Homo sapiens: one gene and its partner. The protein of the gene in region 1 purifies or fractionates together with the protein of each later gene. This does not show direct contact. Each region holds a gene or a part of one and is shown on either strand. Other genes may lie near its edges.

The links.
Region 2: the proteins of EPB41L3 (region 1) and CLNS1A purify together in Homo sapiens (affinity purification with mass spectrometry; 3 studies listed by BioGRID and IntAct, with this or other methods). This does not show direct contact.

The regions. Positions count from the first base shown.
Region 1 is NC_000018.10:5,397,498-5,400,997, forward strand, and holds part of EPB41L3 (band 4.1-like protein 3), read right to left. Parts: coding exon of another isoform or gene 3,472-3,500; intron 647-3,471; coding exon 524-646; intron 1-523. UniProt on the Homo sapiens protein: Tumor suppressor that inhibits cell proliferation and promotes apoptosis. Modulates the activity of protein arginine N-methyltransferases, including PRMT3 and PRMT5.
Region 2 is NC_000011.10:77,614,030-77,617,412, forward strand, and holds the end of CLNS1A (methylosome subunit pICln), read right to left. Parts: intron 2,667-3,383; 3' UTR 501-2,666; downstream 1-500. UniProt on the Homo sapiens protein: Involved in both the assembly of spliceosomal snRNPs and the methylation of Sm proteins.

The DNA of each region.
Region 1 (3,500 bases):
CACTCGCCAGGATGTCTAAAGCCAGCAGCAAGTGCTTATAACCAGAAACACTGACGAAAAATATAAATTAGCTTTCATTTCTCCCACTGAAATCTCTGATGCCTGCCCCTGCCCCTGGTGCATGCACTTGAACCTGCGCTGCTGCTTCAGGACATCCGCAAAACAAACGGAAGGCAGGATAAAGTGCAATTAACAAAACAAAAACCAAAGCATTGCAGCGCATTCACGTTGGTTTTGGCTGCTTTCTTAGACTCAACTGGTGAGACATAATGCTTTTAGATATTTAATTCTATTAAAATTTCTCAATATGATCGCCTTTCGAATAGTGAAGTACATTCTTGAGATGCAACTAAAGGCATGTGACAGATATGCCAAGCAGACACAAAGGACAATAAGTGAAGACACCTTTGAGATGTTGAAGGCAAAGCCAGCTGGATGCAACCACACACTCACGCCCAAAAAAAGGGTAAGGAAAGGCACATGGGCACATTCAGAAACACCAAGGACGAAAACAAATGGCCACCTGAACCCAGCTTTGAGAAGTAGAAGTAACCCCTCCTATGAATTCTGTTGGTTTTCGCGCAGACTCTAATAAACTGAAGATTTCAGAGCCATCCATGAGCTTTTCCCCAGAAGACTGCTTAGTCTGAGTGAACAAAGAGAGGCAGAGTCAAGCACAAAAGAGAGACACAAACTCAGGCACATAAACATTCACAGCTTGTTAGACAAAATCGTAGGCAGAGGAGACAGGGAGGAGGAAGAACGAAGGAATCTCAGAGTTTGGAAACGAAAAGAATGGGAAATAAAATAGAAAACCAGGTGCTCTTGTTTGGTAAAGCAGAGACGGTTATTAGGATCAGGGTGGCGCCGATTTAAGCAGATATATATATTTTTTCCCCTTCATTGCAAGCCACAGCAGCACTATCACATCTTGGGAACAGGGAGCTGGAAATAAAATGGAAAGTGTTTTAATGCTGACTTTGCACTGCGGTATTGATTTAACCATGAAAAAAAATTAAGAAGCTGGGTTGGCTGCTCTCAACATAAAGCCAAGCAGCAAGAGAAACGGAAAGGTTTGGGGTGGAAGGGGACTGCCTCAAAAACTGTCATGCTGGAATTGCAAACTGTGGCCCCAATGAGTGACACTGGTTACCACTACTCGGGAGGCGGATGACTCAGTAACGTAATGGGCAGTAGCAACGGTAAAGGCTGGTTCCTGGGAATATCTCCATTCGGACAGGCTCTTCCTTCGGGGACCAAAGAGGCCCACTTTTAAGACCTCACTCTCGGGCACTTGCTCTGTTTTGCTGAAGCGTCTGCCTTCCAGGCCAGGGAGGACGGCCACATCCTTCTCCAGCTGTGGAGCCTTCTTGAGGTCATCTTCTTCAGGACTCTGCCGGCGAGACTCGGCCTCCTTGATGGGGGCCAGGGATTCGGACAATTTCCGCTGTGTCGTCTGGACCTCTGGTCCTCTCTTGGATTTCTCATCAGCGAGGGTTTCCAGGACCTCATATTCTGCCAGGCCGGGAATGATCTTCATGGACTCTGGTATTTCTTTCTCCATTTTCTGAAGTGCTTCTGTAGTGGAGGGCTGCTCCACTTTCTCACCCTCTTTAGCTTTCCCAGTCATAGTAACAATTCTCCCGGAGACAGTGTCATAGGATTTTCCTAGAGTGTATATTTTCTGTTTGCTGTCTTCTTTCAGTTGCATTTCTCGAGCCAATTCTTCGAAGCTTTGCATTTTAATAGTGCCAGATTTTAACATGTCAGCTGGGAGATCACCAGTTTTACTGCTCACGGTCACCACCTTGTAAGTCACAATCTTTTTCAAATCACCATCAACTACCTCAGTTGGTATTCTGTCTACAATAACCCAATCCTCTGTGCCCTATATTTGAAATATAAAAGCTAAATTAGAAATTCTGATGGTATCTCATTTCTAAAATAAGAATCCTTTAAGAAAATCAGGGCAACTGCTACATGCAGGTCTGTGATGGGACCATACAGTGCTCATGTTATTATCTAATAATTATGGCTGCAATCTCTTCTCCTCTGAAATGATAAACTATAAACTTCAGCTCAGAATACATTCGGTAGGTAGAGTTGCAACTTCTTTAAACTGGAACATACTTTGCAGTAAATTTTTTGAAGAACAGATTTGCTCTTATGATAAATTTTGGATCATTTTATATTTCAAGATTAAATAACATTATTGATGTTGCTCTATAAGTTACTTAGCTTTACATGTGTGGGGATAAAAGTTTTCCTCGTTAAATATAATCTATACTTCATATACTGTTATCACAGAGAGCTTCCCAACATTCTACAAATTTATGTAAATATTTTCCATATTTGTAAATTGTATTTCTTTATACAGGGAAATGAATCCATAATAGCACTTATTATTCAATAAATATTGAGTGTGACTGTGTTCAAGGCATTGTAATGAAATATTTCCCACAAATAGGACACTATTAGAGCCTCTTACAGTGATCTGTACAGTGTTCGAGTCTTACATTTTTTTTTTAAAAGATGGGGTCTCCCTATGTTGCCCAGGTCGGCCTCGAACCCCTGGGCTCAAGTGATCCTCCCATCTCAGCCTCCCCAGGAGCTGGGACTACAGGCACATGCCATTGTGCCCGCTCCAATCTTATTTACAACTGAAGTTCACTGTCTCAGGAGTTTCTCTCTCACTTTCTTTAGTGTTAGTTCCAATAAGGCAAAAGAAAGGAAAGCTAAGAAACTTTTGTATTCAGGGAGGCATAATACAATATGACCAGGTAGGTTAATAGCTTCACAGATTACAGAGGGAAGAGATATCAAACCAGGAGCAGGTGAGTGCCCTGGTTTACATTTTAAACTAGAATGTTTTCTAGAAACTTTTCTGTTTTTTACAGCCTGAAAACTTAAATCTAGAAATACGTGTGCCTTTAAAAATACCACTACAGATTGATCTACATGTTGTTGCTAGATTAAATGAAATGAATTGAAAGAATAACCTCTAGGGTTGATGGGACAGTTTTCTGGAAAATTATTTGACGAGAAGTAACCACAGAGTCAGCAGAGTCTCCTTCCTGCATTTTCTTTATCACACTTGGCTAGTGGGGAAACCAATAAGAATTCAGAACTTTCAAAATCAGTCAACTTCATCTAAATTAGCACGACTCTACAGGTAAAAACAGGCAGTAAAACAACATTTCAGCAAGATTATTATCAGAAAGTAAGTCAATGACAACATACAGAGAAAAATCAGCTTGGATTAGAAGCCATGAAGAAATGATGCATAACTGATAACTAAAATATTAAGAAAATTCAATTTTCCCTTCCCCAGAATCTAAATCAAAATTATGTACCTACCTTGGTTTTAAACAAGATAAATGTTAAAGGGAAAATAAAAACTAAGAGCATTTTAATGACACTGAAGTCTGAAGACCAATTTCTTCTGGAAAATCCTTTATGTTTGGTTTTTACCTGAGACTCAAGGAATGGAGCGCTTCCTT
Region 2 (3,383 bases), on another chromosome or scaffold:
CTTTACCAATATTGAGGAAGCTCCTAACAGAACCTCAAAAATACATAACCACATAACCTTTTTTGATTTTTGAGATGGAGTTTTGCTCTTGTTGCCCAGGCTGGAATGCAACGGTGTGACCTCAGCTCACTGCAACATCTGCCTCCTAGGTTCAAGGGAGTCTCCTGCCTCAGCCTCCCAAGTAGCTGGGATTAGAGGTGCCCCACCACCACGCCCAGCTAATTTTTTGTATTTTTGTAGAGACAGGGTTTGACCATGTTGGCCAGGCTAGTCTGGAACTCCTGACCTCAGGTGATCGACCCACCTCAGCCTCCCAAAGTGCTGAGATTATAGGCATGAGCCACCGTGCCCAGCCCCTATAAAGATTTAAACAAGCTTATGGCCTCAGCTCACTGCAACCTCTGCCTCCTGGGTTCAAGTGATTCTTGTGCCTCAGCCTCCTGAGTAGCTGGGATTACAGGTGCCCACCACCATGGCTGGCTAATTTTTGTATTTTCAGTAGAGATGGGTTTTCACCGTATTGGCCAGGCTGGTCTCAAACTCCTGACCTCAAGTGATCTGCCCACCTGAGCCTCCCAAAGTGCTGGGATTACAGGTGTGAGCCACCACGTCCGGCTGGGACCATATCTTAATGAATACATTTTTTAAATGAAGAACCTAGAACAGAGAACCATTAACCCTAGCTTTTAGGAACATTTAGATGACTTACATTTTGGAGGGGAAATGTCTATGTACCTTTAAAGTGTCTCTACATCAGGAACACACAAAGAAAACAATTCCAGCAACCCTAAAATTAGGCTCAAATGAAATCAATAAATATTGTCTGGCTGATCATTATAAATTTTATCTTTTAAAAGCCTGACCTGCTCTTTTTTCTCAGCTTCTATTTTCTCAATGCTACGGTTCTAACTATCTAGTGAATGTTACAGCTCAATCTTTGAAAGTCACTTAGTCTAATGAGGAAATAAGCCCAGAGAGGTGCCCACATGCTTTGGTCTCCTGCCTTTTTGCATATTGCATTGACCACAGCAACACCAACAAGAAACCAAGTACACTCTGAATCTTCTCGACATTTTGCTATCAGAGCAATTTATGTTCATGGAAAGTCACAATTATAAATTTGTTCCTTTTAAAAGGAACTCAAATGGAATTTCTAATATTAGCCTGTGAGAATGTCCTGACTGATTACTGAAGAATGGACAAACTTCTAGGATAGAATTATGGGTGTTGCTCAGATGGGTAGCAGAGAAACTGGGGAAGCTCTTGTACTGGCCATTGAAATGTTAACACTGAAACCCTGCAGCAGTGGGGAGAGTGTGCATGCTTTCTGCTGCTGGTAGGTGGTAAGGCTGTATGATGTTTTAAAGCACAGGCTCAAAAATCACAATTCACTATCTACATGACCTTAAGCAAGTTATTTTACCTCTCTCTATAACTCAGTTTCCTCAACTATAAAGTGGGATAAAAGCGTATCTCATAAGATAATTAAGAATATTATAATACATAATAAAGAACTCAGGACAGTGGCTAGTACAGAGGTCTCAGTAAATTTTAGTTTCCATTTCAAGTGGCTGTTTTACTTGCCTATTGTTAACAGACTCAGAAATTCTGAGAGTCTGGTTAGAAAAAGGAAAATTCGTTTTTTTTCAGTCTACCTTGCAAGATAAGGGAAACCAAGTGACAGTGCTGAAATGAACACTGGGCTGAGTGGTACCAAACATCAGTTTAGTCACTAATTAGCCATGTGATCCTGTTAAGAAGGTTAGCTTGTATAACCTTATTTTTAAGGACACATAATGATTTCAAAAGTCCAAGTATAAATCAGTAATTACAAATCAGCCTTATAATACCCAGGTATCTATGAAAACTAAAAATTGAGAGTTGATAAATATAAGAAATTACTGCTGATCTAAAAGGAAGTGGCAGAAATCCCCTGAAATGTGTTAAATCTTTGCCTTACTAAATACTTGCCAGAAGCTATAACTATATTTTCTTATTAATTTCATGTTCATCTTCTCAACAAGTAAACAAAAATAAAGCCAACAAAATTCTCATATTTGCCAGCATTATTTTTTAAAAAACATTTCTCATTAATGGTTTTAGTCAAGAATGAGAGCAAAGTAATATAGAAAACCTAGGTTTATTTGTTAAGCTATTACAAAAACAAAACAATTACCATTTGAAGTACTTTGAGGACTTCATCCCAGACTCACTTGTTCTGTTACAGAAACTAACCTAAAAGGCTGGAAATTAAAGGATACAACCTAAGAGGTTATAACAGCAGACTGGTAAAACATGGCGAAAGGAGCTCTCTCTTTCCCCCGCAGTCTACCAAGCTCCTGTGCATTTTCACCACATAGATCTGCTAGCTTACAAATGATGCACACAGTCAAGGTAGGAATTATAGGCCTACTCAGAGGGTACCCAGACACAGAAAGTTTTAGGGTAAATAGTAAACTACAAATACCCTCTTGGTTAAGTTAATTCATCAAGTTAATAAAGGTCATATTATCTATCTTCTGCTGGTGACAACTTGTTGTCTCAGTATAGTCTGTCTCAAGAAAGAACTGGTTCAGGTTGGGTTTTGGAAAAGGAAAAAGACTTTCATTAACTTCACTCCAGAGTGGAAGAGGCACCAAGTTCTCTCCTACACTTAGGAGCAGAATCTGAAAAACAAAAGGTTTACAGTGTTTACAGTAGTGATAATAATAATAGCTACTACTTATTGAATGCCTAGTCACGAGTGCCAGAGGACTTAGGTACATTTTATCTTAGCCTCTGCAACAACCCTGCAAGGTAGGTATTATCCTCCCCATTTTACAGATGGGGGAAGTGAGGATTAAATAAGTTATATGCCTTGTCCAAAGGTGTACACAAGTATGTGGCAGAGTTGTGATTCCACGATTAACGTGCCGTCTCCACCCCACCTCATGCACTGAGAAGTCCTAGTTCCATTATCCTGAAATTATTAACAGTTGCATAAACTACTCTTAATTATTTATTCCTTATTCATTCTTTTAAAGCATGTACAATTTTAAATGATTAAAAATTTACACAGCCAGGTGTGGTGGCTCACACCTGTAATCCCAGCACTTTGGGAGGCCAAGGCAGGCGGATAACCTGAGGTCAGAAGTTCAAGACCAGCCTTACCAAACATGGAGAAACACTGTCTCTACTAAAATTACAAAATTAGCCAGGCGTGGTGGCACATGCCTGTAATCCCAGCTACTCGGGAGGATGAGGCAGGAGAATCACTTGAACCCGGGGGGGCGGAGGATTCGGTGAGCCGATTGCACCATTGCACTCCAGCCTGGGCAACAAGAGCGAAACTCCATCTCAAAAAAAAAAAAAAAAAAAAAAAAATTAGCCGGGTGTGGTGGTGG